4 linked regions of the Homo sapiens genome follow. The protein of the gene in region 1 purifies or fractionates together with the protein of each later gene. This does not show direct contact. Each region holds a gene or a part of one and is shown on either strand. Other genes may lie near its edges.

Region 1 (2,793 bases):
TGATTTATTTTAACCGTAGCACTACTGCTTTATTTTAGTTATATACCAGTAATGGAAAATAGTGGCCACTTTTCATTATTAATCATAAGATAATTCATTGTATTTGTCTTTCCTAATAAAATGGCATTATATTAAGGCCCAAAATGTTTACTATGGCCCAGTAAAATATAGGGTTGTTCTGTGAGCTATTTCTTAGGATAGAAAATTATTCCAGAAAGCTATTAGTTCAAAAGTCTCTAGCAGTGCCAAGGTTTCAATAGTCTCTTTAATTTTGAATCTATGCGATTGAAGATAAGACTGCATCTAGTTTGGGGGTTGCATGTTTGTGGACATTCATGTTTCTATGTACCTGGAACTTCTTATTCTCACCATCACACAGAATTTTCAAGAACTAGTTAAGCAAAGAAAGCAAAGCCCAGCAGGTGTCAGAATTGGGTCCCCAAGCTGAGGGTCATTAGGGTGCATGTCAGTGTGCCAACTCCAATATCCACACCTAGAGAACGCACATCTTCCCAAAAGAAATGAAGCACAGATGATACTTGATCCTCAACTTTGTCTCCAGAAATTTTTTCAGGAACTTGAGTTCTTTATCAAATGCTCACATCCTACAGAGAAATAAAGTGTTCCATTTTCAAGGTTCATGAAGCTCGTCAATGCTGGGAGCAGGCACACACTTGTATTTTTATACTCAGGGATCCCAACAGGCAACTAAAACTAGACAAGGACAAAACTCCACTCAAAATATTCTGAAAGTTAGCTGATGCCCCATATTTTATTACTCCAAATGTGTATTCACTTGCCTGAGTGCTGGCCATGAGCACTCAGTGAACACTTGCAGTACAGTGAGTGATGTCCTTGACAAGTTACTATGAAGACTCTGAGAAAAAGTAACATCCCCCACTGTCCTCAACAAGCCTGTAATCCCATGGCTGCCAGCCCTTACCATGCAACAACACTGCGCTAAGTGCATCGAACCACACAAAACCCTGTGAGAAAATACTGCTTCCCACTTCACACGTGAAGTAACTGAGTCTAGTTTTAGAAATACCTAAACGAAGAGGGACAGGCACAACAAATTTGCTGGAATGTAAAGAAAGTAGATCAGTTTCTGCGTAAGCAGTAAGAAATGGCCTCATGAGGAAGAAAGGGACATTTGCCCTGACATTTCTCAAAGACTGCTTAGGTTTTGGAGACAGAGATCCAAGGGCAGGCAAGCACAATGGTTCATGCCTGTAATTCCAGCACTTTGAGAGGCCAAGGTGGGAGGATTGCTTGAGCCCAGGAATTCAAGATTAGCCTGTGCAACACAGCAAGACCCCATCTCTATTTTAAAAAGAGAGAGAGAGATCCAAAAGCAAAGGCATTTCAGTTTGCAAGGCCAGCATGGGAGAGGGTCTTAAAACAGAAACACACAAGGTAAGATTGGGGGATGGTACCTAGACCAGCCTAGGATCATAGGATTTGATAAAATATGCATTTGGAAAACTGGTGCTAATTTATAGAGACTTAGAATTTCAGGCTAAGGACAAGGACTAAGAAACGAATAGCATGAACAGTATTATTGATAAACCCATCATTGCATCTTAAAGGCTCTGAAGTCTTTAGTATTGAATTAAAAAATAATTTTCACTGGACAAAACCAAAAGGTCTTTACACAACTGTCAAGCACTTTGAAATGATTCAGCAAAAAGCAGAATAAATCACTAGTGGAATTTCAATAGCATGTAGTTGTAAACCATCATGTGTCCAGCAAAATCACAAAACAAGAGTTTATTTTAGAAGGGACTTAGGGATATTAAGAAATATAACATACAAAATAACTAAAGTTTTCTCCAAGCAAAACCAATGATCCTTTAGGGATGAACAGAAAGAAAACAAGAAATGCTTCTTTCAAAAGTTGCTACCAAGGCTTCTAAGATTTCTTTGGAATAAAGTCACTAAGATTTGCTTCTGAGGTCAATCTTGCCAACTTTTCCACCATGCTTTTTAGGAAGGAACACCAGGTAGGGCTCAAGTACTGGTTTGGCTCCTGTCCCATTTTTTGGTCCTTTTGTAACTCCCTTTACTCAACTCCAAGTATGTCTGTGCACGGACAATGAGACGAAAGCATGCTCAATGCGAAAGCACAAATTATGTATTGAGAAATCACTACAATGCCAAATTTTTTTAAAATAAAAAAAAAATATATATATATATATATATCTTTAAGAACTCGCTGTGTTAGGGAAACTGTTTACATATTGAGGTGTTCCTCTTTTTTTGACTGGAACAATAAAAGAAAAATTTGATATGGCCTTGGTTTCTTTTTTATGTGTGTCTGTGTCCAAAGAAGTCGGCCTTTTCTACAAGTGAGAGCATGAATTGTTTCAAAGCGCAACACCCTGCCCCAGGGCCACTCAAGATGTCAGGCATATCAGGCATAACCCAAGGATAGTACCATGGGTTTGGAGTGATCTTCTCTCTTCTTCCCTCCCACTCTTCCTCTCTCTCCATCTCTTTCTTTCTCTCCCTAACTCTCTTGCTCCCTTTCCTCCTTCTCGCTCTCCCCCTCCTGTCTCTTTCCCCATCTCTCCCACAATGTTCTGCCTATGGCCAGATCCCAGCAATGGGTCAGCTCCGCTCCTTTCCACACCTACTGACCCAAGTGGGACTCCTTTGATACCTGTTTGTACCTTGCACTTCATGGAACTTGAAAAAAACGAAAGGGAATTAGGGACTTGCAGAGCAGTTGATCCTGCCCCTTGTCACAGCTCTAAGAGTCTTAATAAAAGGAGTTTGATCATTCATGATAAA
Region 2 (3,500 bases), on another chromosome or scaffold:
TTTGAGGAAATCTTAAGAATTAAAAAAATGCATATACGATACAGTACGTACCCTAGATGAGTTAGGGGCCCACTTGTGGTCTTGGTCATTAGAGTGTACTCAGGGCAGCAGATCATCTGCAAAAGCTGTGGGCCAACCAGCTTCCATAGAAAGTTCCTCACAAAAAGAATAGTTCCTTAGAAGAACCTGGACACACAGAAGGTATTGAATGAGTACTGATTGCTTTTTGACAATAAAATAGGTTCATTATATCTGTATTACAAGGTCGTAAGAAAAATATATACTTTACATATTTATCATGTAATATTTGATATGTACATATAACATATGCAAATTGTAAAGCACAGTGGGGAAATGAATACCAGGGAGCTCCTCCCTAATTTAAGAAGCAAAACTTTACCAGTCTGTGCTCTTTCCCTACCCACTCCTCTGCCTCCTCGACACAGTTCCAGGAGGAACTATTATGGGTTTTGTGTTCATCATTTCCTTCCTTTTTAAAAAGTAGTTTCAGCGTATATGTTACATATCAATCTCAGCAATGTCGCTTTTAGTATTGCATAGTTCTGAGTTTTATAAATATGGTATCATTCTGTACGTAGTCTCTGCAGCTTGCTTTTTCACTCAATATTACATATCAAACATCTCTGGTATTTTGTCTAACCATAGTTAATTATCTTTATGATTTTTTCCAAGTTTTTTTGCTGTTTAGACAATGAACATTCCTATACCTCTCGATACATATGTGCAACAGTTGTTAACATTTTGCTATATCTGCTTCATTTCTCCCTCTTTTTTCCCCCTCTGAACCATTTCAAGGAAAATTATAGATATATTATTTACCCTTAAATACTTTGGCACAAATCTCTCAACAATATAGATGTGCATTCATGAAATAAACTCGGTTTGGTTATGACTCATTATTTTTTATTCCCCTCTGGATTCCATTTGCTAATATTTTACGATTTTTGCATCTATGTTCGTGAATGATACTGGCTTATAATTTTCTTCTCTCATACTGTTCTTATTTTGTTTTTTTATTAGTGATATACTGGTTTACTAAATTAGTTAGGTTAATGTTCCTTTTTTAGTTTTTTAGAGAAGTTTATATAAGAGTGGTATGATCTTTCCTTGGTCATTTGGTAAAACTTGCCTGTAAAACAATTTTGGCGTAGCATTTTCTTTGTGAGAAGATTTTTAGTAACCAATTTAGTTTTGGTAACAGCTTTAGGACTTTTTGATTTTTATAAGTTATTTACCTAGGTTTTAATATATCTTGTAGTCATAATATTTTCTTTTTCATTCTTCATATCATTTTTATGCCTTGTGTCTTTTAAAAAAAAAAAAACTTTTGGCTTTGTTGGCCCCCTCTATTATAACTTCTGTATTTGATTTTATTAATTTTTGCTCTTTACTTTCTTTTTTTTTGCTCTTTCTTTGATTTATTGTCTTTCTTCTAACTTCTTAAGTTGGACATGTTAGCTTATTGCTAATATTTCTTTCTTTCTTTTTTTTTTTTTTTGAGATGGAGTCTTGCTCTGTTGCCCAGGCTGGAGTGCAGTGGCACAATCTTGGCTCACTGCAACCTCCGCCTCCTGGGTTCCAGCGATTATCCTCCCTCAGCCTCCCAAGTAGCTGGGATTACAGGAGGGTGCTACCACGCCTAGCTCATTTTTGTATTTTTTAGTAGAGATGGGGTTTCACCGTATTGGCCAGGCTGGTCTCAAACTCCTGACCTCGTGATCTGCCTGCCTCAGCCTCCCAAAGTGCTGGGATTACAGGCGTGAGCCACTGCGCCCGGCCTAATCTTTCTTTTTTTTGAGATGGAGTCTTGCTCGGTTGCCCAGGCTAGAGTGCAGTGGCATGATCTCAGCTCACTGCAACCTCTGCCTCCCTGGTTCAGGCAATTCTCCTGCCTCAGCCTCCCCAGTAGCTAGGATTACTGGCAATAGCCATACGCCTGGCTAATTTTTGTATTTTTAGTAGAGACAGGGTTTCATCATGCTGGCCAGGCTGGTCTCGAACTCCTGACTTTAGGTGATCTACCCACTCGGCCTCCCAAAGTGCTGGGATTACAGGCATGAGCCACCGTGCCTGGACAGCTTTCTTATTTTCTAATGTAAGCTTTTAAATTTCAAGCAAAGCACTGCTTTTAGTGTATCTTATAGGTTTAATTTGAAGGATTTTAGTTTTGTTCACTTCTAAGTATTTTTATATTTTTCTATTATGGTTTTTCTTTTGTCCATGTATTATTTAGAAGTGTTTGTTAATGTCCAAATATGTCAGAATTTATTTTTCTTTTTTGCTTTTTTTTTCTTCTTGTTTTAACTGGTTTCTGACTCTTGCCTCCTGGTCAGAAAGAATTCTAAGTGAAACTAACTCTGAAATTTATTGAAACTTGTATTTGTTCCCTAAAAAATAATAACATATTTGATGGCTTAAAACTACAAAAATGTATTGTCTCAGTTCTGGAGTTCTGAAAGTAGTATCACTGGGCTGACATCACAATGTCAGCAGGACCACCTTCCCTCCATAGGCTCTTGGGGAGAATCCATTCCTTAATCTGATGGCTGCCAGCATCCTTTGGTTTGTGGCCCCATCATTCCGATCTCTGCCTCCTCAGTCACATTACCTTCTCCTCCTATGCCCCTCTCTTTTAAGAATATATGTGATTGCATTTAGGGCACACTAGGATCCAGGATAACCTCCCCATCTTAAGATCCTTAATCACGTCTATGAATACCTTTGCTTTCCTTTTTTCTTTTACTTTTTGGCACAGAGGGTGCATTCACAAGTTCCAGGGATTAGGACATACATACCTTTTGGGAGCCACTTTTCAGCCTGTCACAATGGTCAAGTTATAAATTTTTCTATCTGTGCTTGGGCAGAATATATATTCTCTAATTGTTGGGTGAGGGTTGGTTCTATCTTGTCCCTATCTCCTCTCACTTAATTTTTTAAAAATATCATCAGTTTGGAGCCAGGCATGGTGGTGTGCAACTGTAATCCCAGCTACTCAGGAGGCTGAGGCAGGAGGATCACTTGAGCCTAGAAGTTCAAGACCAACCTGAGCAACATAGTGTGACCCAATCTCAAAAAAATAAAAACAAAAACCCAGTTCTTTAATAAAAAAAGACATATACATTCTTAGCACTATAAGTAAGAATTTATATGATATTAGTAATTTATTTATCTTTATTTTTTGACCCTTAACTTAGCGTCATCAAATAACATACTTGGGCTGTAATCATAGCAGGTTTATAAATTTAGACACATTCTTCCTGTGTCCCATGATATGGACCCTTCATTTGTTTGTTCATTCCTTTATTCCTTCCTTCATTCATTCAGCATTTATTCAGCAGCATTTATATTAACCGTGTGCCAGGCGTGTTGTAGAAGCTTGGGCCCAAAAATGGATAAGACACAGTGTATGTACTCACTGAGCTCACATATTAGTGTAAGTAGGCAGATATTTTTTAAATGATAAGTAATGTATCATTTAA
Region 3 (3,500 bases), on another chromosome or scaffold:
ACCAAAGATAATGTGGTCCTAGAGCCACTCACTGTGGCAGCAGTTCTCGAATTCCCAGCTCCCTGATGGTGGCAGAGACAAAATCCACTGTGAGCCACACAACTGTCATTCCTGGAAGCTCAGCCTGCTCCCTCAACCCTTCCAAGGATATAATGACCACCTCTTTTTACTTTATTAAGCCTTTCTGTTTGAACCATACATAAGAAATAAACTCTTAACAGGTGTTTAAAATCAGATGTCTAACAAAACTGTTGATGTTGCCATGGAACACCTGAGGTCAAGTATTATTTTCGTTAAGTAAAATAGTTACATAAGAGGTGTATTTTTTTGGTGAAGAGGCACAAAATAACAGTATAGATAAGACTACCTGCAAAAGTCATGGAAATTATCTCTAGAAATCTACAATTATGGGCTTGTCTCAAATCCGCTTTGTTTTTTTTTTTGGAGATAGAGTCTCACTCTGTCACTCAGGCTGCAATGCAGTGGCGCAATCTCGGCTCACTGCAACCTCCGCCTCCTGTGTTCAAGCAATTCTCCTGACTCAGCCTCCTGAGTAGCTGGGATTACAGGTGTGTGCCACCATGCCTCCAGCTAATTTTTGTATTTTTAGTAGAGATGGGGTATACCCATGTTGTCCAGGCTGGTCTCGAACCCCTGACCTAAGCGATCTGCCCACCTCGGCCTCCCAAAGTGCTGGAATTACAGGTGTAAGCCACTGTGCCCAGCCCCTCAAACCCCCTTTGTAATGGACTAATGTAGTATAAACATTGTAAACAAATATAAATTAAAATATTCTTACTTGACTGCAGCAAATACATTATCTCCATTTGGAACAATTATACAATTTTTCTTTGCTTCATTTATACCAACATATACAGGAAATTCATCAGGAGAATCCCTGTGTAAGCAAAAGACATTAAAAATTTAGCTGCCCATAATTTATATTATCAGGCAAGTGGGATTTCAGGTCTACAGACAACAATTTACACCTATTTTTTTTCCTTTTTGGAGGCCTTTTTTTTTTTTTAATCATACCAGAATTTATCGATTACATCAAACAAAAATTTCTGTAATGGAAAAGGCAAGTTGCAGTCATAAAAGATGGCATTCACATTCATTTTAGAAAGCAACAACGTAGATGTAAAAAATTGTTTAAGTGAAAAATGTAATATTGCAGTCCCATTTTGCAAGCTGAAAAATTTTGTCAACACACATAAAATCTGCACATTTACATACTGCATGTTAAAAAATTCCATCACTAAAGTATTATAAATATTGCAAAGTTAGGCTTAAATTTATACTGTTGCTGGTGTATATGTAGTAGATATGGAATGAATGTTTTCAGTTTAGTAGGTAGCATCCTCAAACAACGGACAACAGTTGTGAAAATTACAAAGACATTTCAATAGCTCAAAATTATCCAAATTATAGGTACATCGTCCTATTATTACACTTTTTTCCCTTTCTCTGTCACAAATAGGATGATTACATTGTAGTGGTAGGAATACTGCATGGTCTACTTCAAATTATTCGATCTGCTAACCCCACACTAGTCATTTTTCATCAGCTCCTCAGTAAAATATCTTTTAAAAAGGAAAGCCAGGTCCCTCCCAAGGATCTAGGTTGATGCCTTTTTTATAAGGGCATTTTTAAAAAAATTCAAACAAATTTGCCAGTTTTAAGCTCCAAGTTTCTTAGGAATATCTATGATAAATCTTATATAATGGAACCTAAAACTAAGATTCTTAGGACCTAGTTGCTTTTATACTCAAATACAAAAAAAAAAAAAAAGGAAAAACAAGAAAAAGGATTGTAAAACATTAGAGATGAAAGGATCCTATTCACGTATATAACCAAACCTTTTATTTTAAAATTGAGGAAACAAATACCGAGAGGTTAAATTACTCAGCCAAGGACCTAGTAAGTTAGGACCTTGGCTACAGTATAATTCAATTCCTAGCCACATGTGCATTCTGCTGTACTACAACACTTCTTCCTGGGCACGTTCCTTCTATTACCTTACATTTAATCTTCACTTTAAAGGATAGCATTTCTACTGGTACAAGCGGACAAGTATTTTCCTCCTGGAGTTTCTCTATTTCTAAGTATTCTGCATGCATTCATTTAATTCTCATAATATTCCTATCAGGTATGTACAGTTATCCCTATTGTTACAAGACAGGAAACCGAGTCACAGAAAGTCACAGTCAGTAATGATACAGGGTCACACAGATAATAAACAAGAGGACCAGTGTGACTCCAGAGACCACTCTTAACTACCAGTTGCCACTCTGGCACACGGCTTATTAAGCACAGCTGCTCTAAATTATCTTTCTTGGGCCAAAAGAGCTCTTCTGAACCCAAAAGGGAAAAAAAGTTTACAAGGAAAGGAAAAACAAGTGAGATTAAACCTAAAGAGTTTACCCATCCTAGGGAAGGTTAAAACGGTAACAGCAAGAACAACAGATGGCTCATATATCCACCAACAGGGGAAAATATGCCTTTCACCTTGGGTGAGGCTAGTGAATAACTATTTATCCTCATTAGCAGGACAGCAGCTGTATTTTAGAGGCGAAGAAAAGATCCTTTACCTGAAATACCCCATGTGGTACTGAGTTTTATTATCTCCAATAATAATGGTCTGGAACTCAGGAGGATCATAGTAAAACCTCCAGTGAAGGTTAAAATTCAGGCCTGTTGATTTTTTCTTCGTTTTATGTTTTCCAGCAAGGATATCATAAGGACCAACTAATTGAAGTCCAAGGCTTGCAGAAAGTGAATCTATAAAGAAAATAAATTTAGACAATACTTTCTGGAGACAGGTAGGAAATAATGCTTTTATTTAGTAAACTATTTCTAAGCAATTGTCTTTAAAAAGTTTCTAAACTAAAAAAATCTTGAGTTATGTGTGAAGATGTCAGTTATAAACATTCAATGGAAAAGAAGTCAGAGTAACAGGAAAAGTGGTATTTACATTTAGGATTTCCTCTTAAATTTACCACTGAATTAGCCTAACATTTCAGACATTCCTGTTGTTTCTTATTTTGGCCAAAGCAAGACTGGTTTGTATTCCTATAGGCCCATTACCACACTGCAGTTAGCCTCAAATACTTGTAGTACACACAGGTTAAGGGAGAGAAAGATAGCAAAAATGTGTGGATTAAGAGTAGTAAAAAACAGGCCAGGTGTGGTCGCTCACACCTGTAATCCCAGCACTTTGGCAGGCTGAGGCGGGCTGATCACCTGAGGTCAGGAGGAGACAAGCCTGGCCAACATGGCAAAACCCCGTCTCTACTAAAAATACAAAAATTAGCCGGGTGTGGTGGCTCACGCCTGTAATCCCAGCTATTGGAGAGGCTGAGGAACAAGAATCACTTGAACCCTGGAGGTGGAGGTTGCAGTGAAACGAGATTGCGCCATTGCACTCCAGCCTGGGTGACAGGGTGAGGCTCTGTCTCAAAAAAAAAAAAAAAAAAAAGGTAAAAAACATTTCTATCCCC
Region 4 (3,500 bases), on another chromosome or scaffold:
CTGAAAAGCCCTGAGTATGGGCATGCCAGAGGTCCGGAAGTACCCTCACATGCCTGTGAAGAAACACCGGGGTCCACAAGGAAGGGAACATCCCTATGAGTCATGAGTTGCAGTTTGCTGTTCCCAGTCAACAAGCTACAGCAATCACTATGGACATTTCTTATATTGCCCTAGGATAGGTCTTAAGGAATGTAGAAAAACTTGCCCTACATCCCTCTGCCACATAAGGAGATAAGATCAAAATTTTCTGGACTCCAGAAAATGATAAAGTATAACTCAATGGATTTTTAAAAATCATAAAGAGACAAGGTTAGAAAGTGCTAATTTCTCAGAGACTGCAATAAAAAGCTTCACTGGGAAGAGCTCTTTTAAAGAGTGACTCAAGTCACATCACACTTAGTGAGCACCTACTATGTGCATGACCCCCTGGGTGCTGCAAAGATAAATAAGCCAGGTATTCTTTAAAGCATGGGAAAGAACAGGCTAAGGGCCACAAAAGGGACCAGGTATTAGGAGGAAACACAGGAAAGGTAAATTTTCTTCTTTTTTTTTTTTTTTTTGAGACAGAGTCTCCCTCTGTCGCCCAGGCTGGAGTACAGTGACGCGATCTAGGCTCACTGCAAGCTCCGCCTCCTGGGTTCACGCCATTCTCCTGCCTCAGCCTCCCAAGTAGCTGAGACTACAGCAGCTGGGATGACAGACGCCCACCACCACGCCCAGCTAATGTTTCGTATTTTTTTTTTAGTAGAGACGAGGTTTCACCGTGTTGGCCAGGATGGTCTCGATCTCCTGACCTCGTGATCCGCCCTCCTCGGCCTCCCAAAGTGCTGGGATTACAGGCATGAGCCACCACGCCGGGCCAAATTTTCTTCTTCTCAAAGACATATAGGAAGGCTTCATGAGTCAAGTGGCATTTGAGCTGGGAGAAAAAAATAAAGCGGACATAAGGTGTCAGAAGGTCATCTGTAGAACCTGGGACATTTAATTGTTTCTGTGACATGGATCCTCTCGACAGACTGTAGAAGCCTATAGATCCCTGCAGAGAATAGCATATTTAAGTGAATATGATAACATCACACAGGATTTCCAAGAAAATCAGTATTAAAATACAAAATGCGGCCGGGCACGGTGGCTCACGCCTGTAATCCCAGCACTTTGGGAGGCCAAGGCAGGCAGATCACGAGGTCGGGAGATCGAGACCATCCTGGCCAACACAGTGAAACCCAGTCTCTACTAAAAATACAAAAAAATTAGCCAAGCATGGTGGCGGGCGCCTGTAGTCCCAGCTACTCGGGAGGCTGAGGCAGGAGAATGGTGTGAACCCGGGAGGCGGAGCTTGCAGTGAGCCGAGATCGCACCACTGCACTCCAGCCTGGGTGACAGAGCGAGACTCTGTCTCAAAAAAAAAAAATAAAAAATAAAAAAATAATAATAAATGCCTTTTTAAAGTAAATTTGTGATAGAGTACCCTATGTGATTATTAGTGCCTTAAATAATAAAATCTAGCAGCAAGTCTAATATCCACCATAATTTCAAAGCAGCAGTAAACATTTTTTGAGATATCTGCAACAACTGTAATGTGAAATAAAAATGCCTGGGATTTCTATTGGCAACAAAAACATACGAACCACTAATAACACTATGGTTTCCCATCTATATTTATAATGAAAGAAAATGCTATATTTAAGTTAGAGGTTAATACAAATAAAGATGTCCTTTTTTCCCCACTCAAGTTCACAGGTTCCATGCTGTTTCCATGGACCCAGGTTAGGGAACTCTGATGAAGAGCCTCGGCCAGACACGGTGGCTCACGCCTGTAATCCCAGCACTTTGGAAGGCCGAGGTGGGTGCATCACTCGAGGTCAGGAGTTCAAGACCAGCCTGGCCAACATGGCGAAACCCCATCTCTACTAAAAATACAAAAAATTAGCTAGGCATGGTGGCACGCACCTGTAATCCCAGCTACTCCAGAGGCTGAGGCAGGAGAATCACTGGAACCCGGGAAGCGGAGGTTGCAGTGAGCCAAGATTGAGATCGGCCACTGCTCTCCAGCCTGAGTGACAGAGCAAGACTCTGTCTCAAAAAAAAAAAAAAAAAAAAAAAAAAAGAAAGAGAGAGAGAGAGAGAAAAGAGCCTAAGAGCCTAAGCAAAGAAAGAAAGTGAGAAATTGGGGTGTATGTTACATGACAATGTAGAACATGCAGAGACAGGAGGCGGCATGGAAAGGTAGGTAAAATCCTCAGAAGATGGCAAATAAGGTAGGTAAAATCCTCGGAGGTCACCAATGTGAGAATTCATTACTCCCAATTATTAAATAATAGAATAGAGGTGGGGCGTGGTAGCTCATGCCTGTAATCCCAACACTTTGGGAGGCCAAGGTGGGAGAATCACTTGAGCCCAAGAGTTCAAGACCAGCCTGGGCAACAAGACCACCATCTCTACAAAAAAAAAAAAAAAAAAAAAATTTAAAAATTAACTAGGCATGGCTGTGCTCTCCTGTGGTCCCAGGTACTTGGGATGCTGAGGTAGGAGGATCGCTTGAGCCCAAGAGGTCAAGGCTACAGTGAGCCGTGATGGCATCATTGCACTCCAGCCTGGGCAACAGAGTGAGACCTGTCATTCATACATATATACATAAATAACAGAATGTGCTCTAAGTTCTAGAAATGCATCTTCTTTGGAATAAAAAGAGATGAATGAAAGAAGCTAGGAAAACATCATTCTACAAGTTTCAACTTATAGCTCCTCTTTAAAATGTAGAGGACAGCATATTGATAAATTTACTCCTAATAAAAGAGCATGGATCCCATACCATCCCTGTTATGTAAATGTACACATATGTCTGGGTATAAGCATATGTATAACACAGATGTTTAGAAGAAATGTGCATCAAAATATTAATGGTGATTCAAGTTTAGGAGTGATTTTACTTTTTCCTTTGCATTTTCTATCATTGGAAAACGGGCAGAATTAGGCCCAACATAGGTTAGGAGACTTAGGGTAAAACACATACCACATAGTACAAAACAGAGCTGGTACAAGAACTCAGAAATTCCCTTTTCTCTTACTATATAAAAACTTTCAGATTCAGAATTGAATGCACCTGAACACATGAAGTACATATAATGATTAAGCCCAACTTATATATTTAGAAACTGAGGCTTAAAGTCTGAGTGACTTGCCCAACGTCACACAGCAAATGTTAATAACTGGAGATTCAGAGGTAAAATCTGGGTCTCTTGGTCCTGAGTGCAGAATATTGTCCTTGTTAAAAGCCAGGGTTTTGTATTCATCCTGACCCAGGTTAAGTCCCACCTATGCCACTCACTTGCTGGTAAACTTGGATGAATTCCTATATTTTTCTAATTCTAGGGTTCACCACAGTTTTTTTTTTTTAACCTCAAAGTGTAATGGTGATGATTAAATGATACAGTAAAGTCCTATTAAAACCTGTGACATAGTAAACACCCTTGTCTCACTCACTATGCCTTTTTGTCTCT

The links. The genes of interacting proteins can lie anywhere in the genome.
Region 2: the proteins of KCNJ6 (region 1) and UFSP2 purify together in Homo sapiens (affinity purification with mass spectrometry; 2 studies listed by BioGRID and IntAct, with this or other methods). This does not show direct contact.
Region 3: the proteins of KCNJ6 (region 1) and HPF1 purify together in Homo sapiens (affinity purification with mass spectrometry; 2 studies listed by BioGRID and IntAct, with this or other methods). This does not show direct contact.
Region 4: the proteins of KCNJ6 (region 1) and MB21D2 purify together in Homo sapiens (affinity purification with mass spectrometry; 2 studies listed by BioGRID and IntAct, with this or other methods). This does not show direct contact.

Annotation. Positions count from the first base shown.
Region 1 is NC_000021.9:37,606,873-37,609,665, reverse strand, and holds the end of KCNJ6 (G protein-activated inward rectifier potassium channel 2), read left to right. Parts: 3' UTR 1-2,293; downstream 2,294-2,793. UniProt on the Homo sapiens protein: Inward rectifier potassium channels are characterized by a greater tendency to allow potassium to flow into the cell rather than out of it.
Region 2 is NC_000004.12:185,408,965-185,412,464, reverse strand, and holds part of UFSP2 (ufm1-specific protease 2), read left to right. Parts: intron 1-51; exon of another isoform or gene 52-3,500. UniProt on the Homo sapiens protein: Thiol-dependent isopeptidase that specifically cleaves UFM1, a ubiquitin-like modifier protein, from conjugated proteins, such as CD274/PD-L1, CYB5R3, DDRGK1, MRE11, RPL26/uL24, TRIP4 and RPL26/uL24.
Region 3 is NC_000004.12:169,747,945-169,751,444, forward strand, and holds part of HPF1 (histone PARylation factor 1), read right to left. Parts: intron 2,782-3,500; coding exon 2,592-2,781; intron 899-2,591; coding exon 800-898; intron 1-799. UniProt on the Homo sapiens protein: Cofactor for serine ADP-ribosylation that confers serine specificity on PARP1 and PARP2 and plays a key role in DNA damage response.
Region 4 is NC_000003.12:192,907,857-192,911,356, forward strand, and holds part of MB21D2 (nucleotidyltransferase MB21D2), read right to left. Parts: intron 1-3,500. UniProt on the Homo sapiens protein: Probable nucleotidyltransferase that catalyzes the formation of cyclic dinucleotide second messenger in response to some unknown stimulus.